Linked DNA regions of Homo sapiens. The protein of the gene in region 5 purifies or fractionates together with the protein of the main gene of each other region. This does not show direct contact. Each region holds a gene or a part of one and is shown on either strand. Other genes may lie near its edges. The genes, in order: ISCA1, WDCP, BACH1, CEP97, NLK, CNOT2 and MYBL2.

What was found.
Region 1: the proteins of NLK (region 5) and ISCA1 purify together in Homo sapiens (affinity purification with mass spectrometry; one large-scale study listed by BioGRID and IntAct). This does not show direct contact.
Region 2: the proteins of NLK (region 5) and WDCP purify together in Homo sapiens (affinity purification with mass spectrometry; 2 studies listed by BioGRID and IntAct, with this or other methods). This does not show direct contact.
Region 3: the proteins of NLK (region 5) and BACH1 purify together in Homo sapiens (affinity purification with mass spectrometry; one large-scale study listed by BioGRID and IntAct). This does not show direct contact.
Region 4: the proteins of NLK (region 5) and CEP97 purify together in Homo sapiens (affinity purification with mass spectrometry; one large-scale study listed by BioGRID and IntAct). This does not show direct contact.
Region 6: the proteins of NLK (region 5) and CNOT2 purify together in Homo sapiens (affinity purification with mass spectrometry; 2 studies listed by BioGRID and IntAct, with this or other methods). This does not show direct contact.
Region 7: the proteins of NLK (region 5) and MYBL2 purify together in Homo sapiens (affinity purification with western blotting, with the first as the bait; one study listed by BioGRID). This does not show direct contact.

The regions. Positions count from the first base shown.
Region 1 is NC_000009.12:86,275,730-86,279,913, forward strand, and holds part of ISCA1 (iron-sulfur cluster assembly 1 homolog, mitochondrial precursor), read right to left. Parts: exon of another isoform or gene 2,488-4,184; intron 1-2,487. UniProt on the Homo sapiens protein: Involved in the maturation of mitochondrial 4Fe-4S proteins functioning late in the iron-sulfur cluster assembly pathway. Probably involved in the binding of an intermediate of Fe/S cluster assembly.
Region 2 is NC_000002.12:24,029,909-24,034,092, forward strand, and holds part of WDCP (WD repeat and coiled-coil-containing protein), read right to left. Parts: intron 3,350-4,184; exon of another isoform or gene 3,298-3,349; intron 3,039-3,297; coding exon 2,921-3,038; intron 1,255-2,920; coding exon 1,025-1,254; 3' UTR 1-1,024.
Region 3 is NC_000021.9:29,301,738-29,305,921, reverse strand, and holds part of BACH1 (transcription regulator protein BACH1), read right to left. Parts: intron 719-4,184; exon of another isoform or gene 600-718; intron 1-599. UniProt on the Homo sapiens protein: Transcriptional regulator that acts as a repressor or activator, depending on the context. Binds to NF-E2 DNA binding sites. Plays important roles in coordinating transcription activation and repression by MAFK.
Region 4 is NC_000003.12:101,730,747-101,734,930, reverse strand, and holds part of CEP97 (centrosomal protein of 97 kDa), read right to left. Parts: intron 3,092-4,184; coding exon 2,978-3,091; intron 2,444-2,977; coding exon 2,277-2,443; intron 1-2,276. UniProt on the Homo sapiens protein: Acts as a key negative regulator of ciliogenesis in collaboration with CCP110 by capping the mother centriole thereby preventing cilia formation. Required for recruitment of CCP110 to the centrosome.
Region 5 is NC_000017.11:28,048,968-28,053,151, reverse strand, and holds part of NLK (serine/threonine-protein kinase NLK), read right to left. Parts: intron 1-4,184. UniProt on the Homo sapiens protein: Serine/threonine-protein kinase that regulates a number of transcription factors with key roles in cell fate determination. Positive effector of the non-canonical Wnt signaling pathway, acting downstream of WNT5A, MAP3K7/TAK1 and HIPK2.
Region 6 is NC_000012.12:70,337,078-70,341,261, reverse strand, and holds part of CNOT2 (CCR4-NOT transcription complex subunit 2), read right to left. Parts: intron 3,874-4,184; coding exon 3,749-3,873; intron 3,507-3,748; coding exon of another isoform or gene 3,477-3,506; exon of another isoform or gene 2,843-3,476; intron 2,820-2,842; coding exon 2,699-2,819; intron 2,597-2,698; coding exon 2,440-2,596; intron 1-2,439. UniProt on the Homo sapiens protein: Component of the CCR4-NOT complex which is one of the major cellular mRNA deadenylases and is linked to various cellular processes including bulk mRNA degradation, miRNA-mediated repression, translational repression during translational initiation and general transcription regulation.
Region 7 is NC_000020.11:43,670,114-43,674,297, reverse strand, and holds part of MYBL2 (myb-related protein B), read right to left. Parts: intron 493-4,184; coding exon 399-492; intron 1-398. UniProt on the Homo sapiens protein: Transcription factor involved in the regulation of cell survival, proliferation, and differentiation. Transactivates the expression of the CLU gene.

The DNA.
Region 1 (4,184 bases), on a different chromosome or scaffold from region 5:
AGGCCCATGGTTTCCCATGGTTCTGTCAGAAAAGGAGGCATGCAGTCCTCCAACGCAGGAAGTAGCACACAGGGTGGAAGGAGAAAACAGGGAAGAGCAGGATTATGGTTTTGTTTTTGTTTTTTGAGTCACAGAATACCAACTTTAAATAGTTACAGAAATAGTTATTATTTTTTAAAGTGCTCATTACCCTTCTAAAGCAGTGGTCCCAAATGTTTTTGGCATCAAGGACTGGTTTCGTGGAAGACAATTTTTCCACGGATAAGGGGAATGGTTTCTGAATGATTCAAATGCATTACATTTATTGTGCACTTTATTTCTATTATTACATTGTAATATATAATGAAATAATTATATAACTCATCAAAATATACAATCAGTGGGAGCCCTGAGCTTGTTTTTCTGCAACTAGATGGCCCCATCTAGGGGTGATGAGAGACAGTGACAGATCATCAGGCATCATTCTCATAAGGAGTGCACAAACTAGCCCCTCACACCTGCAGTTCAGACTAGGGTTTGTGCTCCTATGAGAATCTAATGCCCCTGATGATCTGACAGGAGGTGGAGCTCGCTTAGGTGGTAATGCTTGGCTTGCCTGCTGCTCTCACCTCCTGCTGTGAGGCCCTGTTCCTAACAGGCCATGGACCAGTACCAGTCTGTAGCGCAGGGACTGGGGACCCCTGTTCTAAGTGATTGTCAATAAAAGCTAGCTTTCTTATCAACCACATGTAAATTTTCACCATATTTTCCTATGTGCATGCTGAAGAAATTAATCACTTACTGTCAAATAAAAATAGCTTTCTGTAAGTTTATTTTAAAAAGGCATAGCCTGGCTGGGCCTGGTGCCTCATGCCTATATTCCCAACACTTTGGGAGGCCGAGGTGGAAGTATCACTTGAGGTCAGCCAAGGTGGAAGGATCACTTGAAGTCAGGAGTTTGAGACCAGCCTGGCCAACATGGTGAAACCCCGTCTCTATTAAAAATACAAACATTAGCTGAGGATGATGGCATGCGCCTGTAATCCCAGCTACTCCGGAGGCTGACGCATGAGAATCGCTTGAACCCAGGAGGCGGAGGCTGCAGTAAGCCGAGATCATGCCACTGCACTCCAGCCTGGGAAACAGAGTGAGACTCTGTCTCAAAAAAAAAAAAAAAAAAAAAAAAAAGGCATAGCCATGGAAAATATCCGCGGGAACTAAAATCTGAAACGTGGTCTTGGTTTAATCTGAGTGGATCAAAGGCACAGATGGGCACACCACTGCATGATCTAAACAAAACAAATGTGTCTGTCACACTACTCCGTTTACCAGCCCCAAATATATAATTTTTTTTATCTCCAAGTGGTTTTCTAAATTATCTAATTTGGTTTTACAAAGTCATCTATTTTCTTATTTTCTCAACTTTTAGCAGGAAACACTTAAATACAGTAAATGAAAGCAATTCGTGGGGATTGGTCTACTTATCACCAAGTTGCTGATGTTCACATCTCATACTGAAGGACTCTTTAAGGGAAAAGTAACATTCAACAGGAACCTGTGTGCCTGGGAAGCTGCTGTTACAGGAACTAAAATATGTCTTAATTTTCCTGTGCCAGGCCAAAACCAAACCTACTCCACTGGGAGGGTGTTACTAATGATGGACAACCCAGGTCAGTACTCAACCAAGGGAAAAGGTTCTTAGAACTTTCAAAGTGACTGATCTGATTTTCAGAACAAGGGAGAGTGGTTAAAAGGGAAGAGTTGGGACTTAAAAAAAATCGAGCTATAAGAGGTACTTTTTGTGTCTCAGTACCAGGGAGAGGCTAAGAATCCTACCCTGCTTTAAGTCTACATACTCTGGCAACTTTGTGCTTAGGTAAAATTCATGTGAGAAACAGCATAAAATCTTCAACTACACAGCATGCTGCAGGGCCTAGCAGCCTGCCAGTACCAGTGCACTTCCCAGAACAACTAAGAAACATGTAATTCTCAAGAAATTTATGTACTATTAATGAATATAGCTTACCTGAGATTTGGCCCATGTTTTAAAATTTAAGAGCTTCCTGAAGCCCACTAAAATATGATGGTTTTTACTCACATGCAAATCACAGGAATATGACTTTTAAAGTGAGAGGTTATCTTTGAGGTAAGGTATTTTGGCCTAATTGAAAAATAAATATATTTCCAAGATGTTTCCGCTGTTAAAATTAAGGGAAAAGGCATTGTAGATGAATGTTTTATCACTACTTCATAGCAACACGCTTTCTAATCCTTGTAGGAGAAACTTTTCATTCTCAATCCTGTATTTCTTTAAGTAACTCCCCAGGCAATTTTCATTTTTTGCTGTTTAAGAAAATTAAATTAAATTCAAAGCTAAAGTTAACTCTGTGATTATGCATACTAAACATGTGCCAACAACTACAACTTAATTTCTCTACAAACATGGCATTTTAATGTCAACATATCAATTTTCTGGGGGAACAAAAGATGGTAAATAAATAGAGCCAGTGAACAAGTACAGTGTATTTTATTAAAATCATTCTTTAACAGCCATGGCTGGCATTAGAGTGTCAAAATAAGAAAAGACAAAAGCATTCTCTTTTGTCTTTTCTTATTTGTGTATATGTGTATATACACATCCAAAATACATATAATATACAAATATATATTTGTAGGCCAGGTGTGGTGGCTCATGCCTGTAATGCCAGCACTTTGGGAGGCCAAGGTGGGAGGACGGCTTGAGGCCAGGAGTTTGAGACCAGCCTGTGCAACAGAGCAAGACCCTGTCTCTACAATAAATTAAAAAAAAAAAATTAGCAGTCAAGGTGACATGTGCCTGTAGTCCCAGTTACTTGGGAGGCTGAGGTGAAAGGATTGCTTGAGCCCAGGAGTTTGAAGCTGCAGTAAGCCATGATCATGCCACTGCATATGAGCCTGGGTGACAGAGGAAGATCCTGTCTCTAAAAAGAAAAAGGTTTGTAATCATGGCATATATACATAATTTTGCAGCCTCCATTGAAACAATTTAACAAATTATTTTTTCATTTGATACATGGTAATAAACATATATTCACCATTTACTGAGCACCTTCTAAGTGTTTAATGGTTTAAACGTAACATCTTTTTATTCCTGCCATTGTGATTTAGGTATTAAAGATTAAATAATTTGCACAGCATAAGTCAAAGAATGAAGATTTATAACGCTGAAACTTAAAAAAAACCATAATTTACAATGACTACATCCTTCACCAACAGGATCTACTCTCACGTACTTAACCGTTCTTTCACTGTTAGACTGCTAGGCTACTTCCAGTGCTTCTTGTGTAGTATTTCCTAAACTGCCTTCGTATAGAAATCTTAGTGCTTGGTCACTGTTCAAAAGGACTTCTGGTTCTAGTCCAATGAACTAACACACAGTTCCTTACTGAGCATTAAGCATTTCCTAGCTTCTCAACTGGACTCCAATAGAAAGTTAAGCCCTAAGGCACCTTCCGTACACAATGAATTCATCAAGAATGATAGTGGCTGTGCACCATCATTCTCTCATAGAACTTGGTTGAGTTTTAATGCACAGCTGTGATCCACCCCAGTCCTACAAATTAGAGTTGCTCTGACTTGTACAATGATGGAAATAAATCTGTCTGCAAGCAGGGCACTATTTACTCTTCAGATTCTTTAATCACATCTGGCTCCTGCAAGTTCAATTCCACTTGTCAATTTCTAGATATGTAGGGAAATAGGGAAGATGTAGATAATCTGATAATGACAGCATTGAACTGTGTTATATTATCAGTTACTTTTCCTAGCCTTTTGTTGACATCTGGTAGACTCCACACATATAGCACTTTTCAAATGTTGCAACATGTCAAATTCCTAACATCAAAATTTATATATCCAGGTAACATTTATCCCTTCCAATCAGTTTTACTGAATTAGGTATACTTGTGTTTGCTCTTATCTGTCTCTACTTATTAGACCCAAGTAACATTTACCTCTTCCAATCAGTTTTACTGAATTACGTATACTTTTGTTTGCTCTCTTATCTGTCTCCATTCATTAGGCCTTTGACGGCATCACTACTTTTGCACTTGACGATACATGCTGATGATAAACTAAGCACAAAGAGCAATACATGCCATAGTGTCCTGACTAGGGCACGAATGCTGGAACTAAAATGACTGCAAGCCCACCAACACAGGCTGTGT
Region 2 (4,184 bases), on a different chromosome or scaffold from region 5:
TAAGCTGGTACTTTAGCCCATAAGTGAAACAAAATGGCACTTTTTAGGACTACCTCAGATTCGGTTGAATTTCTAACTTCCTGAAATACTTTCTCTCACAGATTCTCTGCTGGTCTCTAAGACTTAAAAGGAGAGAAAATAAAAATATCAAATTAAAGTGACAAGTTAACTAAGGGAGCTGACTACTGGGAGAAAAATAGGAAAGTTGCGTGATCCCAAAACTGGATTTAAAAAAAAAAAAAGTTATTTCAGGGACACTCATGAGTGGCCACAGCACAAAATCCTGCAGTAGGACTTACCTGGGCTCGACAGTGTGGTAGCAGCATCGGCACAACCTCAAGTGGAACCCAGAGGGGACAAATTCCCTTGAAATTTCATTCAAAATTTTCCCAGGGCCAGTTTTTAAGAGTACCTGGACCTTCGTCAGCCAGAATTTGTTAAGGAAGCAAGAGGGTTTGGTTTAAATTCTGGGAGGTCCAGGCAACATCAGAGCCACTTCCTGTTCCTGAGAGCAGAAGCCAGTGGGTCTCTGGTCCTCCTTGGAGCTCTGCTAATTCTTGCTGGTTTGAGGTTAATATGCTAGAGCACATGCCCCCCAGCAGACTCCTCAACCTCCTCTTGAAGCCAAGAAAAAGACCTATAACAATGCCAAGGTATCTTTTAAGTGCTCCTAAGACAGCTTCAATGCAGCTTTGGACAAGGGACACAAAGCCTCAGAGAAACCATAAAACACCATCCATATGGCACCATAATATTGTTTTGTTCTGAGAATTCTGCCCTTAGTCAAAACCACACAGTCATGAATACATAAACACCACTTTCGGAGCCATCTAATAAAGACTGAGCTCTGCTACACAGCAGCGAGCCTCAGCTCAGGGGAAACAGGGGGAAACCAGGAGAGCCGACCATGGCAAGCGCTTCGCCTGAGTGCAGTGGGAGTCTCATTGGCGAGTGTCCAGTGTCAAGCAGGCCTTGTTTGTAATGGTCTCATCTGAAGAGCTACACAGCAAGGACACTGCAGATATCAAGCCATGCCATCTACATGGTTACAACAGCCAGTGGTATCTAAACTGGGGGCAGCAAGGCCTGTAAAGACTTTAAGAGAAGAAACAGCACCTGGACTGTGAGAAAAAGAGTCTCTGAAGACATCTGACCTGGACAGGCTGCCATCTCTTATGATTATTTCCTGTGTGGCTGTGAAGGTTAACGGGATAAAGCCCTCACTGTCAGCAGAGAGAAGAATCCAGTGGGAATCTGCAAATAAAAATAAATACACAGGCAATTTAGTATATATTATTCTTATGATGAAACATATGACTACAAATTTTTTTTTCTGAGTGAAGGAATATAGTAGTTGATAATATTCAACTCAATCCTTGTAAGATTTTACAGAGAATGGGGTATTGGGAAGACTGGGTATTACTTAGGGTCAGGTAGGAGAAAAAGGGGAAAAAATGAAATGATATTTGATGTTCAATGTGGTGGCTACTGTTACAAGAATGAGGCATAAGAAAACAACCATGCTCCACATCTGATGAATCTGGCATGACTCAGTCCCTTGCCACTTAGGAATATCCTTTGAACATCCATGTTTACTCCATATTAGAATGGCAACTCCTCAAAGAAATATTCTGTAGGCCGGGCGCAGTGGCTCACGCCTATAATCCCACCACTTTGGGAGGCCGAGGCGGGCAGATCTCGAGGTCAGGAGATCGAGACCATCCTGGCTAACATGGTGAAACCCCATTTCTACTAAAAATACAAAATATTAGCCAGGCGTGGTGGCATGTGCCTGTAGTCCCAGCTACTCGGGAGGCTGAGGCAGGAGAATCGCTTGAACCCAGGAGGCGGAGGTTGCAGTGAGCCGAGATCATGCCACTGCATTCCAGCCTGGGTGACAGAGTGAGACTCGGTCTCAAAAAAAAAAAAAGAAAGAAAGAAACATTCTGCAATGCTGCTATGATCTTTACATTTTAGTGCAACAGAAATAAATGAGGCTTTCTGTTACTTCCTTGCAGTTGTTATACACTGCTTTGTAAGTCTTTTCTTATTTTTTCATATGTACATTTAACTTTTCCAGCTAGGCTGTAAGTTCCCTAAGGGCAGGGTGCATATTTTCCATATGTTTTGGCACCTATACTAGGCCTGGGTATATAGTAGGCAATTAATAATATTTGTTAAGGCTGGGTGTGGTGGCTTATGCCAGTAATCATAGCACTTTGGGAGGCCAAGGTGGACGGATCACTTGAGGTCAGGAGTTCAAGACCAGCCTGGGCAACAGAGTGAGACCCCGTTATCTACAAACATTTTTTTTAAACTTGGCTGAGGCTGGGTGCAGTGGCTCACGCCTTTAATCCCAGCACTTTGGGAGGCCGAGGCAGGCGGATTGCCTGAGCTCAGCCTGGGCAACACAGTGAAACCCGTCTCTACGAAAATACAAAAAATTAGCCAGGCATGGCAGCGTGCGCCTGTAGTCCCAGCTACTCAGGAGGCTGAGACAGGAGAATTGCTTGAACCCGGGAGGCGGAGGTTGCAGTGAGCTGAGACTGCGCCACTGTACTCCAGGACCGGGTGGCAGAGCAAGACTCCATCTCCAAAAAACAAACAAACAAACAAACAAAACTTGGCTGGGCATGGTAGTGAACACCTATAGTTCTCACTAGTTGGGAGTCTGAGATGGGAGGATTGCTTGAGCTCAGGAGTTCGAGGCTGCAGTGAGCTATGATCACACCGAGGCACTCTGGCCTGGGCAACAGAGCAAGACCCTGTCTCAATAATAATAATAATAATAGATTACTTGTTAACTATCCAGTGAATTACTGAATGGTTGGTATCCCTCATTTTCATTACCGGCATAGTTAAAACAGATGGTGGGGGAGGCAAGGATGTTAGCTAGGGTCAATTTCTGAGCACGACCTACCATGTAGCATTTCAATGAGAGAAAGGCCAAAAGTCTGCTGAACTGTACTGAGCCTTAGTTTACCATCACAGAGAAGCACCGCTCTTTTTTCAACAACAGGACCTAGATAATAAGGTTTCTGCAAATAAAAAATAAAAGTTGTTAAACTGATTGCAGAAGTAATCGAGTTAACATTTCTTAAGAAAGGAATGTGTAAATAGTTTTTTAAAAAATTCTTATCTATTACCACTAATCAACTGGACTTCAGTTTTAAGGAGCTCTTTGCTGCATTATTTAACACAACTAAAAAATCCGAACAAAACAGCCTTATTTTTCCTTTTGTTCTACTCTTTCCTCAGGGTTCTTCATCACTAGGAACTGGCTCTCCTAGAATACAACTAATAACACTAAAAGGATGATGGACAGCAGCCTGAGAGACACAATCTGACGGTAAGAACACCTTCTTGGCTGTTTCAGATATAGCTAAGACACCTCATGGTTTATTAGGAAAAAAAATGCCGAGAGAGTGTCCTAAGTGGTAGAGTAGCAGAGGATTTGCATAAAATAAACAAACCATGGTCAAAATTCACATAGCTTAGAAAAAGCACAAATAAAAATAAATGATTTGTAAATTTTAAAGTCATTAAAAATTGGCTGGGCACAGTGGCTCACCCCTTAGTACCAAAAGTTTGGGAGGCTAAGATGGACAGATCACTTGAGCCCAGGAGTTCAAGACCAGCCTGGGCAATATGGCAAAACCCTGTCTTTACAAAAAATAAAAAAGTTAGCCAGGCATGGTGGTACACACTTGTAGTCCCAGCTACTCGGGAGGCTGAGGTAGGAGAATCACTTGAACCCAGGAGGCAAAGGTTGCAGTGAGCTGAGAAGGTGCCACTGTACTCCAGGCTGAGTGACAGAGACAGACTCCATCTCTAAATAAATAAATAAATGAAGGACAGTTGTATAAGTTATGTGTCTAACTTATTTTGTTGTTAAGCACTTTGGGAGGCCAGAGTGCATGGATTGCTTGAGCCCAGGTATTGGAGAGCAGCCTGGGCAACATGGCAAGACCCCATCTCATAAAAAGAAAATAAAACTATACATCACTGTGGTAGGATGAACCACTCAAAGAATATGTCCACTAATATTTTTAAATGAAGTCACAGGAATAAACTGTAAAAGTCAAAACCAACTAATCATTTATTTCACGTCTTATGAAATGTAATTTCTGAAATTACAGGGGAAACTATTTCTTGCTTTTGATTATTGTGTAACTTTTACTTTT
Region 3 (4,184 bases), on a different chromosome or scaffold from region 5:
TTCTGAAAAGTTCATTATTGCCAATATCTGGAAAAGTTCCTGGCTTATAAAAGCCTAAACATTTGTTTCATAAGTTAAATGTAAACCAAATGCCTAACATGTAGGAATGCCACAAATATTGACATGAATTTAGCAACCCTACTGTCCACATACACTGAAAGTTAAGTATGCGTTCATGTGAGTTGGGGGAGAACAGCAGCAGGAACAGGGAGAAAAGAGAACACAGTGCCTTAGCCTTGAAACTTAAAAACACAGTTTTTCCTCACTCTTCAGAGATTAGAGAGCTGTTCCAAGCTAATTCAACAAAAAAGAAGAGGCTGTTTCCACACTGGCATCTGAGAAGCAGTGGTAGGATAGCTCTCTAGAATCTCAGCTCCTCTGCTATTTGTGACCACTGTTGCCAACCTGCTCAAAGAAGAAAAGGTGGCCCAGCCTTTCTGGGGTCTGGAAAAAGACAAACTAGTCCAAAGACAGGAGGCCCTCAGAGACAAAATATACTTTTTAGAAATCTAAAAAAAAATACCTATAGTTTGAATAGCACTTGTGACAGTCTTTTACCACAAAGAGACAACGAAGTAGGGAAAGTTAATCGTAATTACATGCTCATCCCCAAGCAGCATTTCCTTTGACTTCTCTGGATGACAACTGAAACTGAAGGCATGCCAGCAAAGAATCCGAGTGAGCTGGGCAAAATGCTCTCTACTTCAACAGTCTTTTGCTAATGTGAAAGAAAAAAAAAAAAACAAGATTACAAAAGCCAAAAGCTTTTTTTTTTCTTACCTCTTTTAACCTGAATTATGACTCTTACCTAGGGGAGTACCCAAGGCCAGGCTGAGATACACCTCAGAAAAACAGTTGATAAAGAGACATCAGGTACACTGGAAATTGAAGAGGCCTGGGCCAAGATCAGATAACCACTGTACATTTTTTAAAATAATATTTAAATATAAAATACACATTAATGAAATTACAACCTAATAAATTTATTCAATCTTTTATAGCCACATATTTTATAACAAAACTGTCTGATGGATGAGCAACTGCACTAATTTAGCTGACTTCTGAAAGACGCTGGCACACTTTAGAAAATGAATAAGGCAATAAGCATGTGAAGATATCAGTAAAGAGGAAGTTGGGTGGATAGGTCGCCCTATTTCTTCAATAGGACCCTCAGGAGTTCACCTCCTTAGGACAAAAACACCTCCCTAGGGTCCTGGAGGCAGACAAATCAATAAAAAGAAGAGATAACTGGAAAAAAGGTGTGTAGGGGGAGGGAGGGACATTTCCCTTACTATACTATTTACTCTACAGCCTTAGAGGTAGGCTATTACTAATGTCCAGGCTACAAAGGAATTGAAAACCTTTTTTAGTGTAATTCCACTTTAATGAGGGATGGGGAAGTAGAGTGCAACTGTCCACTGACTGATCTGATCTAAAAAAATGATAAATTTAAAAAGTGAAAAAAACTTTACCTGAAAGAAACTGGGAATAATTAGGGGCCAGGCACAGTGGCTCACGCCTGTAATCTCAGCACTTTGGGAAGCCAAGGCGGGTGGATTGCTTGAGGTCAGGAGTTCGAGACCAGCCTGGCCAACATGGTGAAACCCATCTCTACTAAAACACAAAAATTAGCTGGGCATGGTGGGGGGTGCCCCATAATTCCAGCTACTACGGAGGCTGAGGCAGAAGAATTGCTTGAACCCAAGAGGCGGAGGTTGCAGTGACCCGAGATCGCGCCACTGCACTCCAGCCTGAGCGACAGAGTGATACTCCATCTCAAAAAAAAAAAAAAGAAAAAAAAAACTGGGAATAACTAGTTTATTACAAAAATATTAGTTTGAACGATGACTTTCCTAAGGCACTGCAAAAAGTGTTTACATTTATTTTTCAAATAACATGATCTGCACAAAATTTCAGCTGCATTAATGTAACATTTTCTAAATTGTGCCCGTACTGAGAAGGAACCAGCTGCCAGCCAATTTCACTGCATGCCCACTGTGTTTCTACACTGGTCATTAACAACCAAGATTCTGGCTACCACTATTTCTTCTTCCTCACGTTTGCTTCAGGGCAGTTTTTTATTATCCTATGAATATTTGAATATTTTCTAACCTGTCCCTGATCCTAAATAAAACAAAGAACCTGTTCTAGAGGAGTGATATTCAAAGTATTAGACATATAAGACATTTAACATCTAGAAAACCAAATTATATTTTGCTCAATTCAATTCTAATCCAATTATGGGTAAAAATAAGTCACAAGACAAGTTTTATGTCTATCTTAGGAGATGAACTAGAATTACTTAATTCCAGCTGCCTTCTCAATAATCACACCAATGATAAAAACAGAAAGTAGAAAGCTAAATAATCAAAAGAATTTCAACTCAGTGCACACTTACAAGGTACCACACACGATGTTCTCTCCTTCAATCTGTTAAACATTCCCAAGTTTCAAAATCACAGAACTAGAATGAACGCATATCATACCACCCAGTTCAGCAACCAACAGTTTATTAAAGAAACACAGCCAAGGCACATTCAGAGTGCCATAGGAGATAAAACAGAAAGACACAGATTCTCACCATCAGGAAACTTACAATCTGGCTGAAAGAATGGTCAAAATAACACAACCTTTCTGAATTACTAACAGGTACAAAAAGCTATACGATAAATATGTCCATTGTATTCATATCCATTTCATGGATAATTTTTCTGTATTAGTACAGGCATATCATCTAAAGAAAACATAATACTTAGAAGAAACTAATTAGCTTACAAATTTACATTCTAAATGTTTCCAACAAACTGGATAGGGCCCAGGAATATGTACTGAGAAACTAGTTCTGTTCTGGTATTAACAAGAAGGGAGGGGTGGACAGGTTACTAAAGCTGCCAGGCCACAATGTCAACTACAACGTGGAAAAGACTAGCCAAAGAATGGCAAGTGTTTTTATTTCGTAAAAGCCAGTTTCAATTAACTGGTTAGTGACTACCTCAAGCACTCCGCTGAGACTGTTAAGATTCCTTTAAGTAAAAAGCTATGTCCTGTGTTCGTTGCCCTCAGAAGTTGGATGTATGTTTGAGATGGTGCTACTGACTTAACATAAGAGTGTTCCCCGGGTTGTTTTTCCAGTCTCACTTGTGATCAATGCCGGCAATTCAGCTCTCAACAGCTATAAAACACTACTGTGTAACTAAGTACTTCCCTGATTCTGAACAACAGATAATAACACCTAACACTTGATGTTTCTTATAAAGCTGGCACTGTTCTAACCACTTACCCCGTATTAACGCATATAATCCTCACAACAACCTCTCTGATACAGATTCTACTATCACCACCCCTGTTTTACAGAGGAAACAATGAGGCACTAGTTACCAGGTAGAAGAGCTTGCCCAAGGCTTTAAAGTGGGTGACACAACCAGAACCTGACCTTAAGCAGTCTGGCTCCAGAACTACTTTTTAACCATTCTGCTTACTGCTTCTTTGTCAACTGTACAGTGATCAAACCCAGACTTCAGTTATGTTAGTGCACTGTGTAAGCCAGGTGCCTGGGCTTCAGGAGAGTGTAAGTCAATGTTTTAGCTGCAGTCCTGAAATGTTTACTCCCTCCAAGGGGCACGGATTCTGGCGAATTGCACTCAAATTACCCATACCTTGGCCATCGGTACATTACCTCATTTGACATATATTTTAAATCAAAACAATCTCAAAAATCATCGTTCCACCACATAAAATAAACCCTCTGTCTAGAATGCTCAGGGAATGCAGGTTTTAGGGTTAAGACAATTCTCTCATTAACAGAACATTAGTCAGAAAATTAGAAGAGAGGTGGTGATTCCTAAAACGTAAGTCATGGAGAGATCAGCACTATGAAGAGAAAATCTGACAAGTGGTAATTTTAACGGGCTTTGCAACTGTTATTCTGAGCATCACCTCTCACAGTACAGGGGTGTAGAAGGCACATGGCACATGAGATTTAACTGAATGGTAAATACTAACCACCCTCACCGCCGCCACCCGCCCCCAGCACTAGTAGGAGGTTGATATTCTGAATAAATGCCACTTCCCAAGGGATTTACTGAATATGTCGTCTTATTAATCTTAAGAGAACATAAGCTTGGCAAAAAACAAACAAAAAAAAACAGACTTCAAGGAGTAACAGTACAAACTAATTTTTACAT
Region 4 (4,184 bases), on a different chromosome or scaffold from region 5:
GAGAAAAAAGTGAAGCCTTCCCCTGTCTATCGTAAGCAGGTCTCATCTCTCTTTGTGGGTCTCTCTTTACACCAAACCTTTATCTCTGCCCACATCACCATGCTGCCTCTCAGACATGAAAATGTTGCCAGTCCTACTCCCACAGAAGAAGTCAACAACTGTACAGAGGATTATCCAAGTAAACCCATATTCCAAATCTAGAACTAGTCACAGTTTGAAACAAAATAAGGTTTATTCTCAGAGCAACATTCACAGCAGGAAAAAGAAAAGCCACCCTTTCCTGTAGGCAAACTAGACCTGACATATGTCCCTCACCCTACACCAGCACCACCACTATCTAGCTCTTGGCTGCCATTCCTCACGGCCCTGTGCTTTACTCAGAAACTATACAAAACAGCAGAGAGACAGAGAAGGGAGACGCTGTCTGTAATCTACCACCCGTCCTCCCATCAGGAAACTCCTGAAGTAACTACTGTCTGTAGTAGAGAAGAACAAAAAAAGGCGAGGGATAATGTATGTGTTGAGTCCATAATGCATGTGTGTATGTACTGAGAGAAAAAAGTTAAATGAAGCATAGTAGACAGAATAAAGTCATCTCAACTCTCACTATCCCAATTCCACTCCCTCCTTCCCATATCCTAGTTCCTTACCTCCCCTAAAGCTCTCATTCCACTGATCAGGTATCAGGGTCCAGAAGACTCCATTCTGCAGGGATCCCAGCTCCAAGCCACAGAAACTATTAATGATTTACAGGTGGGGGAATTCTTGCTTCTGCTGCTTCACAGGTATAAGAAGGGGAGAACCTGGCCAGGTGCAGTGGCTCATGCCTGTAATCCCAACACTTTGGGAGGCCGAGGCGGGCGCATCACCTGAGGTCAGGAGTTTGAGACCAGCCTAAACAACATGGAAAAACCCTGCCTCCACTAAAAATACAAAATTAGCTGGGTGTGGTGGCACATGCCTATAATTCCAGCTACTTGGGAGGCTGAGGCAGAAGAATCGCTTGAACCCAGGAGGTGGAGGTTGTGATGAGCAGAGATCGCGCCATTGCACTCCAGCCTGGGCAACAAGAGTGAAACTCAGTCTCAAAAAAAATAAAAAGGCTGGGCGCGGTGGCTCACGCCTGTAATCCCAGCACTTTGGGAGGCCGAGGCGGGTGGATCACGAGGTCAGGAGATCGAGACCATACCGGCTAAAACGGTGAAACCCCGTCTCTACTAAAAATACAAAAAATTAGCCGGGCGTAGTGGCGGGCGCCTGTAGTCCCAGCTACTCGGGAGGCTGAGGCAGGAGAATGGCGTGAACCCGGGAGGCGGAGCTTGCAGTGAGCCGAGATCCCGCCACTGCACTCCAGTCTGGGCGACAGAGCGAGACTCCGTCTCAAAAAAAAATAAAAAATAAAAAAATAAAAAAAAAAGAAGAGGAGGACCAATCACCACATCTGCTACTAGTTCCAAATTAAAACTCTGCATTTTCCCAGAGTTATCATTATAATGAGTATTTGGAGAATTCTAAGATACTACTAATACTGCCCTTACATGGCATTTGGAGCTGGATGATAAAATAGAAAATAAAATGAATAAAAAATACGGCCCTTATATATGTGATAGATTAATATATTACAAGCTTTTGTGAGACTGATCTGAGATCCTACACAGGATCTATAACATGATGGTTTCTAAGCAAAAGTGTTCCAAGCTCCAAACAACTGATTAACAAAAGAACTTTTAGAAATCAAATTGTTGTATGTAGGGCACTAAGACTACTAGCTCCAATCTCTGGGGCCGAGATTTCTTCTTTTTTTTTCAGAGACAGGGTCTCACTCTGTCACCCAAGGTAGAGTGCAATGACACAACCATAGCTCACTGTAACCTTAAATTCCTGGGCTCAAGCAATCCTCCCACCTCAGCTTCCTAAGTAGCTAGGACTACAGGTGTGTACCACCACACCCAGCTAATTTTTTTTTTTTTTTGAGATGTGGTCTCCCTATATTGCCCAGGCTGGTCTCAAACTCCTGGGCTCAAGCAATCCTCCTGCCTCGGCTTTCCAAAGTGCAAGGATTACAGGCATGAGCCACTGCACCAGGCCAATATTTATTTCTTATCCTTTTTTAGAAATGACAGAAAATCCTAAATGACCAGCATATAGTCTGCTACATGACTGCACTAATACTCTTGTTATCTAAATGCACATTTTAAGAAATACTCTATTAATCTGTAGTAAACTAGAAATGGTCTTTTCAGTAACATTTGTGATGTTAAAGAGCACATGTTTACCTTTCCTTCTGAGAAATCACATATCCATCTAGGACTCTGAGGTTTAGGCACCAGCTGACGATGTACGGCCGATAGTCAAATCCTGGGATGGATGGTGTTGCCATCACACAAGGATTGTTCATAATCGACAACTGTTCCAATTCAGTTAAGGATGCCAAAAAAGAGATCTGGAACAAAAGATATCTTTGTTGAACAAAAGGACTATTCAGTGTCAAGCACAAAATTTCCACTGATTACATATCTTTGGCAGCATTTGAGAATGTGATAATTTCCCTCTTGTTCTGAAAAGTGACAAGTGTCCATTGACTTCCAAAGTTTCAACAATATAGCCATCTGTCCCTGCTGCACAAAATCCCCTGGCAAATATCAGCACTGTTTCCTAGCAGAAATAACCCTATTTTGAAAACATCACAGCAGCCAGGAAAGGTGGACAGGGAGTCTTATAAACCCTTATAACGTAGATGTCCCTCTACCACCAATCGCCTCCCAGTGGAATGATAATTACAGCTTTACAAAGGAAATTAGACCTTAATGACCCACTGACACTAAGGAAAAGTGGAAAGATCTAGAGCCAAGCATTTCATATGAATGGCAGTTTCTTCCAAGATGCTCACAGTCTAAAAGTAAGCTCACAACCCTCTCCTGTGTCTTTCCTAGGATTTCCAGCTTCCTGAATCTCACAAAATACCCTCAAATTTTACCTCATTTAAGTCTCGGATTTCATTTTCTGCCAAAGAAAGTATAGCAAGACTTCTGGGTAGGTAAGCAGGTGCCATTCTAAGAGAGGTGATGATGTTTCCATGTAAAAGCAGGGTCTTGAAAGTAAAAACAGTATGAATTACAAATGAAAAGATTACAAATAAATTGGCCTATTGTGACAACACCAAAATGGTACATATAAGAATAAAGGAATCTACTTTATTATATTTCTCATCACACACAAATCAAAGACTGTTAATGCTACAAGGGTCCTTGATGATCTTCTGGTCCAACTCTCTGTTTTCATACCAACATCCTAAGCTCATGATATTTTAAAGACTTGTCCAAAAACACATGCTTGGCATAGCAACTAGGCATGCTGTGAGATTTAACTTATGAGACACTGAGCAATTTCTAACACACTTTTTCATTTTCTTTTAAAATATCAAAATAGAGGCCATGTGTGGTGGCTCATGCCTGTAATCCCAGCATTTTGGGAGGCCAAGGAGGGAAGATTGCTTGAGCCCAGGAGTTTGAGACCGGCCTGGGCAACATAGTGAGACCTGGTCTCTACTAAAAATCAAAAAATTAGCCAGGCATGATGAGGTGCACCTGTATTTCCAGCTACTGGGGAGGCTGAGGTAGGGGGATCACTTGAGCCCAGGAGGTCGAGGCTATAGTAAGCCATGACTGCACCACTGCACTCGAGCCTGGGTGACAGCAAGACTCTGATGTCTCAAATTAAAAAAAAAAAAAAAAAAAAGTCATTAAAACAACCACATATAAAGCAAATTTTCCAAAAAAGAGAGTGATAACCTACATCCATAATTGCAACTGTATTCTCTAGGTAACTAAAAAATAAAGGGAGGTAGAATGTGTTACTTGCAGATAAAGCTGACTCACATTAAGTCAGCAACAACCAAGAATAAACCCAAAACTGAACACCCAGGATTCTGATCAGATAAATAGGCTTCTATTCCAGCAAAAAAAAAAAAAAAAATTCAATCATCTTTGGTTCATTTGAATTCTCTTAGCATCTATTAGGACAACATCTGGCTACATCAAAATGTTTAGAATAATTATTGCTAAAAATGATTTCTGCTAAAGATCTGGGAAAAAGTGAACTAAGATACTGCTTCTAGGGCTTAATGAACATATCTGATGGTAATAATATCCAATGAGGCAACAATATTTAAAATGTTCTACATG
Region 5 (4,184 bases):
CTCCAAAAGTAATCTTACCTTCATTGACAGTGACTGGTTCAGAAATGAGTATGTAATCCAACAAAAGCCAAAGAGAGGCCAGGTGCGGTGGCTCAGGCCTGTAATCCCAGCACTTTGGGAGGTCAAGGTGGGCAAACTGCTTGAGCCCAGGAGTTTGAGACTAGCCTGGGCAACAAAGTGAGACCCCATCTCCACAAAAAAATAAAAAAAATAGCCAGGTGTGGTGACAGAGCAAGACTGTCTCAAAAAAAAAAAAAAAAAAACACCAGAGATCAATATGCTGGTGCTGGTCAGTAGCCATGTGTGGCTACAGAACACTTAAAATGTGGTTAGACCAAACTGAGACATATTCTAAGCATGAAGATACATAGTGATTTTGCAGACTCAGTATGAAAAAAAAGTAATATAGATCATTAATAATTTTTATAGTGAATACATGTTGAAATGACAATATTTTGGATATAGAGTTAAAATACATTACTAAAATTAATGTCACCTGTTTCTTTTCAGTTTTTTACTGTGGCTACTAGAAAATTTAAGATTGCATACTTTCACTATGTATTTACTGGATAGCACTGCTGGTTTGCTGAGGGTGTCTGCAAAAATGCTCCCTTCCTCTTGGACAAGAGCTTTAGGAAGTCACTCTCCCTCTTTGGGCACTGTAAGCCCTAAACTACTACAGCCTGAAAGCTGTGTCAAAGCTCATTTTCTGGGAGGCCCACATGCAAACTAGTAACTCTCTTATCCAAATTCAGAATTTAAAAGAGACTCCTGGAAAGAAATTTGTTTTAAAGAAACTTGCAAATTAATGTAAGCACTGGCTCCCAAATCATCTTACCTGATTACTCACACACAAAAGATGACAAAATACTGAACATTAAATTTTATTTAAAAATTTAAAAATCACTCAAAATATTGTAAGAAAACTATTGTAAGACTTATAAGAAACTAAGCAAGTTTTTAAAGTCTAAAACACTAAAAAGGTAAATATTATCAGGAAAATAGTAGTATCAAATGGACATGTAGAAGAAATTGCTCATTTGCAAACAGGCCTGCTCTTCTCCACAGCTGAACTACATGTATAATCCTTACCAATAACTCAGTAATAGAAGAAAACAAGTCTCTTGATGAAAAAAAAATGAACATTTAAAATCTAATCCCAAATTAGAAAACTCTATAAAAGTCACCACTCTGGAACAGGGTGACATTTATCTCATTCCTCCTTTAAACAATTTTAGAAGCTATTCAACACTGTAGTCCTGAAGAGAGAAAGTTGTCTTGTGGTCACCAGCAAACTCCAACAAATATTAATATCATTTTATAATAGAATCTTAGGAAACACAGGATTTTATAAATGAGAAAACCAAGGCTCAGAAAGTTTAAATAACTTTACCAAGGTCACAGGGTTGTTGGCAGCAAGGCTAGGACCAGAACCTTGTCTCCTAACAAGTTTAGTTTAGTAATCTATTACCCCATTGTTTAAAAAAAAAAAAAAAGCCGGGCGCAGTGGCTCACAACTGTAATCCCAGCACTTTGGGAGGCCGAGGCAGGCCGATCACGAGGTCAAGAGATCGAGACCATCCTGGCCAACATGGTGAAACCCCGTCTCTACTAAAAATACAAAAATTAGGCGGGTGTGGTGCCACGTGCCTGTAATCCCAGCTACTCGGGAGGCTGAGGCAGGAGAATCCCTTGAACCTGGGAGGTGGAGGCTGCATGAGCCAAGATCATGCCACTGCACTCCAGCCTGGTGACAGCGGAAGACTCTGTCTCAAAAAAAAAAAAAAATCCTTCCCAAGGAAATGGCACCTTGAACATCAAGTTCTCTGGTTTATTAAACTAAAAACAAACAAACAAACAAACAAACAAACAAATGAGATTTGGAAGAATTGTATTAATAATTTTAAAAAATTGTAAAAAGTAATACTGAATACTTAAGACATTCTTTAGAATCAATCAAACACAATCACTCTCTCAAATGCCATCAATGATCTATTTACTATCAGGCTAAATACAATGGCCTTTTGGCCTTTTCTCCATCTTAATTTTCTGACTTTTTTTTTTTTTTTTTTGAGACAGGTTCTGACTCTGTCGCCCGGGCTGGAGTGCAGTGGTGTGATATCAGCTCACTGCAACCTCAGACTCCTGAGTAGCTGGGACTACAGGTGCGTGCCACCACACCAGGCTAATTTTTTTTTTCTGTACTTTTAGTGGAGATGAGATTTCACTATGTTGTCCAGGCTGGTCTCGAACTCTTGGGCTGAAGTGATATGCCCACCTCAGCTACCCAAAGTGCTGGGTTTACAGGTGTGAACCACCATGGCCGGCCTTCTTTGACTTTTTATCAGCACCAAAGATCACTCCCATTTTCCTAACAATCTTCTGCCATACTTAGATTGTCAATCATTGTGAACACATTTTCCTAACTGCCCTTTAGTTCTGCTTCCAGTAGCTTCTTCCACCTACAACTGAGAACATTCCCTAAGACTCAGACAGATCTCAGTTCTCTCTACTCTTCTATTTTACATATCCAAAAAAAAAAATTAAATCTGACGAAGTCTCTCTTACTTAAAAACTTTCAGTAGTTGCCATTCGCAGTTTTAACCTTTTCTCATCATTGCCCGCCTACGGAGCCTTTTTAGGCTATTTTCCTAATCATCCCCTCGTAAAATCTTAATACCACAGATATGCTATTTAACTGTTTATGTGCTATATGTCCACATATGCTTTATTAATAAAAAGCTGTTTTTAGTGCCTCAAGCATGACATTCCAACCTCTTCATGATTGAGCTCTAGCTTACACTTCCTACCACCCACTGCACTGCACATTCAGCATCTCCAGCCCTGTAGTCTCCTGCATATAGGCCCTTCCACCTAGACTGCCCTTCCCCATTGGTTGACTCTCATTCTTAAAACTCATTGAAGAATTACCTATTTTAGGAAGCATCCTGACCTTCCATAGAAATCCCTCCTCTACACGCCCTTAATGTCCAGGGACTATCTCTATTGCTGCATTTATGGCAATGAATTATAATAATCCATTTACAAATCTATTTCACCCAGTAGGTCATAATCACCTTTAATCCTTATCTCCAGCACAGTGCCTGGCAAATAGTAACATACAATAATTGAATATTGTAAGAACAAGTGAAAATAATATATATATTTTTTGAGACACAGTTTCACTCTTGTTGTCCAGGCTGGAGTGAAACGGCACGATCTTGGCTCACTGCAACCTCTGCCTCCTGCGTTCAAGTGATTATCCTGCCTCAGCCTCCCAAGTAGCTGGGATTATAGGCATGTGCCACCACACCTAGCTAATTTTGCATTTTTAGTAGAGACGGGATTTCACCATGTTGGTCAGGAGGGTCTTGAACTCCTGACCTCAGGTGAACCGCTCCTCGGCCTCCCAAAGTGCTGGGATTACAGGCGTGAGACACCATGCCTGGCCTGAAAATAATATATTCTTAAGTTTTTATTTAATGGTTTCAAATTTAGTTTCACCTCTCCACCAAGGCTGAGGACACCCTGAGAGTAGGCATGTTTCATTGTTCATATTGTTTACTTGACTGTCAACTCCTCCAAAGCAATATGGTGACTTAAACATCCCTATACCTCAGTACTAAGCACAATACAGACAACAGCAGCAGCAGCTTAATAGAGGTTCGCAAAATTATTTATAAGACTAAATATCCCCATTTGGTGCTTGCAAAAGTGCTGGTCCACAGCGAAGTGACAATAAAAATATATAGACTAGTGAGTTCCAAAGGTGTTAAAAACTTTCACTGCCTCATAGTAGATATGACTCAATTAGCCAAATTATTTCAAAACTGGGTTTAGGTAAAGAGCACCAATCATTATGAGTGGCAGACATCCCCATATATACTCCCTCTACTCACACCATTACAACTAAGAGTTAAAGTTCAATCTCAGTAGAGTTCACTTAGAAGTCATCTTTCCATAATGCCAGAGTACCAGTTTTTTCTGTTTCTGCACTAGGTACCTTACAACTACTGACTATGTCTATCATGACTTGTTATGTGCTCACTGACAGTGTTACAACTGTTGCCTCAGACACTCTGTTACTTCCAAGCAATATCAGGATCACACTGACAAGCTATTTTAGTTATTGTTGACCTGTATTAGATGGCCCAATCAACAAATAATTCACTGGAGTAGCACAG
Region 6 (4,184 bases), on a different chromosome or scaffold from region 5:
AAGCTGTTGAGGTGGGGTTAGGGGACAAACAATAATCATGTAAGACCTTGCAGGCCTGTGAAGATTTGGGGTTTCTGGTCAAGCGCGGTGGCTCACACCTATAATTCCAATACTCTGGAAGGCCAAGGTGGGCAGACCACTTGAAAAGTGAGGAGTTAAGAGACCAGCCTGGCCAACATGGTGAAATCCCGTCTCTACTAAAAATACAAAAATTAGCTGGGCATGGTGGCACATGCCTGCAATCCCAGCTACTCAGGAGAATCGCTTGGACCTGGGAGGTGGAGGTTGTAATGACCCGAGATTGCATCACTGCACTCCAGCCTGGGCGACAAGAGCAATACTCTGTCTCAAAAAAAAAAAAAAAAAAAAAAAGATTTGGGGTTTTTAATCATAATGAAACCACAAACATTTACTGGGTGTTGAGCAGAGGAGTAATGTATTAAAAAAGGATTGTCTTGGCTGTTATATGAAGAGATTGTACGGGAAGGGGTATAAGGACAATCAGGGACCCCCAGTGACTGGCTAATGGAGTATTCAGGCAAGAGAGAATGATTCAAACAAGGGTGGTAGCAGTTAAAAGTAGTGAGCTTTGGTTAGATTCTGTATATATTTTGGGAAAAGCCTGATTATGGGGTATAAAAGAAAGAGGAGTTAAGAATAATGCCAAGTTTCTGGAAGTACAGAGTTACCACTAACTGAGATTGGAAAGGCTGTAGACAGAATAAGTTGGGGGGTGATCATTCAAGAAATATTTAATTGGCAATTGAATGTAGAAATCTCAAACTCAGAAGTGTGGAATGGAAACATATGTTTGGGATTCCTCAATATATATGGTATTTAAAACAATAAGACTAGAAAAAGATCATCAAGGATGTAAATGCAGAGAAGAGGAATGACACTGAGGTCAAGAAGAAAAGGAGGAGGTACCAGCAAAGGAAACTGAAAAAGACCAACCAGTGAAGATGAGGTAAAAATGGTGCTCTCAAATTCAAGTACAAGAATGTGTATCAAGGAGCAAGAGTTCCTCCAAGTGACCACTGAATTTAATAACATGAAGGTCATTTGGTGACCTTGATAAAAGCAGCTTTAGTGAAGTGGCAGGGACAAAATCCTGACTGAAATGGGCTTACCAGAGAATGGGAGAAGACCAAGTCGGAGAAATGGAGATGACTCTTTGAAAAGTTTCGCTTCAAAGGGAAATAAAGAAATGGGAAAGTAACTTACGGAGGAGGTTGGATCAAAGGAAGATTTTCTTCTAAGATGAGAGAAGTAACAATGTATTTCTATGTTGATGAAAATGACCCAACAAAGTGTGAAAATGTGTTGTAAGTAGAACGCATGGGTCAATTATGGTAATAGGGTGGAAAACAAGAATAACATAGGTGTAGGTGGCTGTAGGTAGTCAGATTTGTTGGCTAGACTGTGCTAAATGTGCTCTTCTAATTGCTTCCATCTTTCTTAGTACAGTAAAAGTGAAAAGCAAGATCATCATTTGATAGTAAGAATAAGGAGAAAAGGTATTAGGGGCATGCAGAAGTGTACGATAGTTGCATAAGAGAGCAAAAGAGTAAATGGACTAAGCATGCAAGGTATAATTATCACTGGTAGAATTAAGAGCCTACTTTTGAGGCTCCTGGGCATGAAAATAAAGGAAGACCAGGCAGTGATATCATGTGTTTTTCTCTAGCAGAGCTCAGTAGCACAGGTCAGGAATGAAATAGGCAGAAACAATCAGTACTGTAGCTTTGGCCATGCAAGTATAACAACATGAGAAAATGGCAAGTAGTCATGGGATATGTAAATGAACAATTATGACTGACCACAGAATTTCATGGGTAAGAAGGGAGTTGATCACAGGGGAAAAGAGACGGGGATCTGGAAGAACAGTTAAAATACCGAAGAATCAATAGATTGAAGGTCCCAATGGAGTGAAATGATTACAGGAATCACAGTACTAGAAGAAGAGAAATAGAAAATAGAAAGTGGAAGTCGGAAAGCATGCGAGCTCAGATTTTAAAATTGAGAGACTGCAGTTACGAACAATGACTAGGTCAAAGGGATAACTAAAGGAGTGGCTGAAGTATACTACAGGACAAAAATTCCTGGAGGAAAGAAATTCAAGGAGCTGAGATTTCAGGATTCTGGAAGGTGTGTGTGTGTGTGTGTGTGTATATATATATATATACACACACACATATATACATGCACATGCACACACACACACACACACACACACACACACACACATAAAATGCCAAATTATAAAAGGAATACTGCAGAGTGACAGTGATCTAAGAGCTAACATGAATGGGAATGACCCAGAGAATCAGCAGGTTAACAATGAGTAGCAGTAGGTGAGATAATTTGATGACATGATATTAAAAACTGGAAGTCTGAAGAGGTATTATATACAGACATGGAAAAACAGAAAAAACTTACTCAGGAGAGTTCAGATTGAGGCCTAATGTTGTTAAGTCACTTCCTAATGCAAGATGTACCATTCCTGGGTCTGTCTCTGCTGCCCTGATAAATGTTAACAGGCCAATCATTCCAAATTGGTCCGTCACCATCCCTTGAGGAATGTTAGTAACCCGACCTGGGTAGGAAAAACACAGTTGCTTTTATTTTCAAGAAAAAGTTAAAAAATAGAAAAAAAAGCATTCTATAATATCTTTGACATAGATTTCTAGAGTCCCACCATCAGGTAACACCTGGATCCCTTTTTTCTGCTGGTTATTATTTTGTGTTGTTGAACTTTTATCTCCAGGGAATTTGGGTCCATCTGTACTTGAAGTTGTCTTGCCAGATGTATTCAAATTCTAGCATGAAAAAAATTAAATGTGACATTAAAATTTGTTAAGTATACAAATTCAAGTTCACATATTAATACCTTGCTATTTATTCTTTATTACATTTAAATTGGTAGTTAAATTATTACCTGTTTTTCAAGTTCTATAGAAAATTGTTTCCATCATTGTTCCATGGTATACAAATAAATCCTATATCATCCACATTTGAGTATTTAAAGAAAAAGAAATCAAGGGAAAATATCTTATTTATCTCAGATCTTCAGTCACAGAAAAAAAAAAATCTATCTCTTTCTCAGGTCTTTATGCTTTGGGATACACTTGAAGTTACACTCCTCAATGCTTTCATGTAAAAGAGAAACTAAATATAGTATATTACCTAAAATCACCAAAGCTACCTTGAAGATAAGTTAGACATACAAGCTTTAAAACTTTGTACTTATTTTAATTCTTACCGATCTTCTTTATCAATTATTTTAATAATATATAAACTCCCATCACACACAGAGAAAAGCTATTTTCAGTGAAATGTGGAAGAAATAAACATATTTGTTAAGTCAGAAAGAAGAAGCTGAGTTGGTTGAATCAACACAGGTATAAAAATGTGTATAAATTCTTCAAGGAGAAAACTTACTCAAGAAAAACACAGCTCCTTAGAAGGCTATATTATCAAACTTCATGGGATCCAGCTGACAGGGACTACAATAAAAGTCTAAATTAACTCTGAGAAGTTCAACAGAAATTTGCAAACCTATATGAAATAGGAAAAAAATAGGCTATCTTCTAAGTTATAAAGCTTTTCCACATTCTTCAGAAGTTAGGTTATTACAGATATCAAGATAAAACAGTTTTGTAATAGTATTTAGTAAGTAATTGTTAATATAAGAGAAATCTGAAGGGAAAAACTACATCACTCACATACACACTTCTCAGTTACTTACAGATTTACTGTCATCATTACTTGATGTTGGATCTTTATAGCTGGAGCCTGGTAATGCTGGAAAATCTTCATTGTGTATTGAGAAGTCCTGGGATTGTTCATTTGCTGGTTTTGTTACCATTCCAACTATGTAATGAAAATAATCCGGAGAATTGCAATTGATATTTATGATATTTTGCTACAGATTATAAAGTTAACTTTCCTCATGATAATACACCAAAAGGTTTCTTTTTTTTAATGCTATGAAAGCGTACTTCAAAAAATTAGTATCCAGGGTAACAATGAAGAACTAAATTTTCATTTACTGATTAATAACTCAACATACAAAATAATACAAGGGAAATCAACAGTAATCCATGTCATGCGTAGGTGCTTAAAAATTTAATTTGATATTGGATTAATTATTAACAATTTTGGTTTAAAAGCTTGTTTTATTT
Region 7 (4,184 bases), on a different chromosome or scaffold from region 5:
GCCATTGCCCTCTAGCCTGGGTGACAAGAGCGAAACTCTGTCTCAAAAAAAAAAAAAAAAAAAGGGTGGGGGGAGTTACAGATTTGGCCAAACCTCCTAGCAGTCAAAAGGCAAAAAGCACAATCAATGTCCATGACATAGAACATGGCAGCTGCTCAGGAGACACAATGGGCCCTGAGGTCTAGGACACACATCCCCTTCCCACCCACTGAGTCCTCAAAATTGAGAATCCCCCAGAATGCTCTGAGAAGAGGCATGAGGACAATCAGAGGACCCATCCCTTCCTTCACCGGCTCCTCCTCTTCATCCCATCTGATGAGACATCAAATACACTCCAGGCTCAGTTCCTCTGGACAGCCCCCAGCTGCCATCAACCCTCTCTTCCCCATGGCACTCACCTCCTCATGGGTCCATTTGACCTTGCACTTGCTATCCCTCTGCTCCGGCACATCTGAATCTGTGTCCTGGTAGTGCAGCTCATCCAGATCCTCGCTATGGGGAAAGCAGGCCAAGGGTCAAGGATGGTGTGTCCATATGTTTTACATAATGGAGAACGTGTAGGCAGCGGCCAGCCCACCCTAGGGAAAGGTCTGGGGGAGAGAGGCTCTTACTTTTTCTTCTTTTTAAGACATAGGCACTTCTGCTTCACTTATTTTTATTGAGACAGGGTCTCACTCTGTCACTGGGCTGGAATTCAGTGTGGCATGATCGTAGCTCACTGCAGCCTTGAACTCCTGGACTCAAATGATCGTCCCGCCCCAGCCTCCTAAGTAGCTGTGACTACAGGGGTATGCCACCACGCCCGGCTAACTTTTGTATTTTTTGTAGAGACGGGGTCTCACCATATTGCCCAGGGTGGTTTTGAACTCCTGGGCTCAAGCAATCCTCCCACCACGGCCTCCCAAAGTGTTGGGACTATAGGCATGAGCCACCACACCCGACCTCACCTCTTTTTAAATTTTTTAATGAAATAGGGTTAAGAGCTACTTTCTTCTTTTTTATTTTCAGGAATGCCCTAGTGATTTCAAAAGCTGTAAAAAAAAAAAAAAAAGAGGCCAGGCACAGTGGCTCAAACCTGTAATCCCAGCACTTTGGGAGGCCGAGGTGGGTGGATTGCTTGAGGTCAGGAGTTCAAGACCAGCCTGATCAAACACAGTGAAACCCCATCTCTACTAAAAATACAAATATTAGCTGGGTGCGGTGGCGCATGCCTGTAATCTCAGCTACTCAGGAGGCTGAGGCAGAAGAATTGCTTGAACCCGGGAGGTGAAGGTTGCAATGAGCCGAGATCATGTCACTGCACTCCAGCCTGGGTGACAAAGCAAGACTGTCTCAAAAAAAGAAAAGGAAAAAGAAAGTTAAGATTTCACCAAGAATATTATGTTCAAAATCAGACTATCGCTTTTTCCTTTCAGTAACAAACCTGCATGGATATTTTAAGGAATAAAGTTGATGAAGTTAACAGGCATCAAGATTTTAAGAGATATTAGTTATTTGGAAAAAAAATTCTGAATATATTCTCTATGTCCATTTGTTGTTTTTCTTCTTTTAGGGACAGAGTCTGGCTCTGTTACCCAGACTGGAATGTAGTGGCATAATCACAGCTCACTGCAGCCTCCAACTCCTAGGCTCAAGCAATCCAATTCTCCCACCTCAGCCTCCCAAGTACCTGGAACAACTTGCATATGACACTATGCCTGGCTATTTTGTATTTTTTTGTAGAAACATCTCACTATTTTGCCTAGGCTCATCTGGAACTCCTGGCCTTAAACAATCCTCCCACCTTGGCCTCCCAAAGTGCTGGTATTACGGGCCTGAGCCACTGTGACTGGCCAAGTTGTTTTTTCGTGTGTTGATTTTTTTTTTTTTTGTAATGACAGGGTCTCAGTATGCTACCCAGACTGGTCTTGAACTCCTGGGCTCAAGGGATCCTCCTGCCTCAGCCTTCCAAAGTAACTTGGATTACAGGTGTGCACCACCGTGTCTGGCTTATGTCCATTTTTGCAAATCCCTTTTCAATCCTTGCCTACACACAGGCATAATTAATGGAGAGAAAAATCAGTGTACAGTATCTATTTTTTTTTTTTGAGACGGAGTTTCACTCTGTCACCCAGGCTAGAGTGAAGTGGCGACATCTCAGCTCACTGTAACCTCTGCCCCCCAGGTTCAGGCGATTCTCCTGCCTCAGCCTCCTGAGTAGCTGAGATTACAGACGCCTGCCACCGCGCCCGGCTAATTTTTTTTGTATTTTTAGCAGATACAGGGTTTCACCATCTTGGCCAGGCTGGTCTTGAACTCCTGACCTCGTGATCCACCCGCCTTGGCCTCCCAACGGGCTGGGATTACAGGCGTGAGCCACCGCGCCCGGCCCAGTGTACAATATCTTCTAACGCCGCTGTAGGGGAAAAAAAAAAAACAGTACGAGCTGCTTTGAATTCTGGGTGTTTTTACTCTACAAGGCAATCTTCCAAGTTGCTCCAAAAAATCCTCGTATTTATCCAGTTTAATAGTTACAAAAATGGAAATCGGGCCAGGTGTGGTGGCTCACACCTGTAATCCCAGCACTTTGGGGCCAAGGCAGGCAGATCACCTGAGGTCGGGAGTTCGAGACTAGCCTGACCAACATGGAGAAACCCCGTCTCTACTAAAAATACAAAATTAGCCGGGTGTGATGGTGCATGCCTGTAATCCCAGCTACTCAGGAGGCTGAGGCAGGAGAATCGCTTGAACCTGGGAGGCGGAGGTTGCGGTGAGCCAAGATCAAGCCATTGCACTCTAGCCTGGGCAACAAGAGCGAAACTCCATCTCACAAAAAAAAAAAAAAAAAAAAAAAATGGAAATCAGCCGGGCGCGGTGACTCATACCTGTAATCCCAGCACTTTGGGAGGCCGAGGTGGGTGGATCACAAGGTCAGGAGTTCGAGACCAGCCTGGTCAACATGGTGAAATGATGTCTCTACTAAAAATACAAAAAAATTAGCTGGGTGTGGTGGCATGCGCCTGTAATCCCAGCTACTCGAGAGGATGAGGCAGAAAAACTGCTTGAACCCAGGAGGCGGAGGTTGCAGTGAGCAGAGATCAGAGATTGTGCCACTGCACTCCAGCCTGGGCGACAGACGAGACTCCATCTCAAAAAAAATAAATAAATAAAAACCCACAAAAATTAGCTGGGCATGGTGGCATGTACCTGTAGTCCTAGCTACTCGGGAAACTGAGGCAGGAGAATTGCTTGAACCCAGGAGGCAGAGGTTGCAGTGAGTCAAGATCGTGCCACTGCACTGCAGCCTGGGCAACAGAGGGAGACTCCGTCTCAAAAAAAAAAAAAAAAAGAAAAAAAAGAAATCATAGGATCCACCTCCAGAGATGTCAGGTGCTTGAGGAAAGTTAGTAATCTTTCCCCAACTCCACCCGACAGGACCTGCATCAGGTCACGTTGGTCAGGTAAGTTGCTAGGTCAGACATTTGTAAACTGGAAAAAGCTTACAGGTTTCCAAACAAGGCAAGTCTTGTTTGGAAATGAAACAAATGAAAGAAGGCTTACTGTGCTATCCACATTACCTTCTCCTTGTTCTCCAAAGCTCACCGTTGCTTCCTAGAGTCACTCCTATACTTCCATAGCACATGGGAAACCCTCCTGTCTCGGGCCCTTACACTGCAACTGCCTGTCTCCTCCACATCATCTACAAAGGTCAGCTCCACCTTGGCATCCCAGGGTTTATCACCAAAAGGGCTTAAGAAATGTTTGCCCAGGGACTGACTGAATATACAAATAAATGAAAAAATGTGCAAAGCTGCTGCCTATTAGTCAATAAGAAATACTAATTAAATTTTTTAGGCCAGGCAAGACCCAATTTCAAAAGAAAAAAATTTTCAGAAATAGGAAAGGAGGGACGGTGTCTACAGTCAGCAATACAGAAGGATCTGGAATTCATTCCTGACCCAGTTCATGGGTCCTCCACCACTTCAATATAGAAGGCAAAAATCCAGAAGATACTAATAACAGAATGAAGTTGGCTTTAAAATCAACTGCCCCCAGACAGCTCGTGACAGAAACCATCTTTGCTTCTCCAGCATCCAGCACAAAGGCCTGGCTTCTAACAGAAGGTCAGCAAATATTCTTTCAAGGATGAAATGATGTCTGCATGGACACTCCCTGGTGCTCCAATGCTGTTTGTTTGTTTGTTT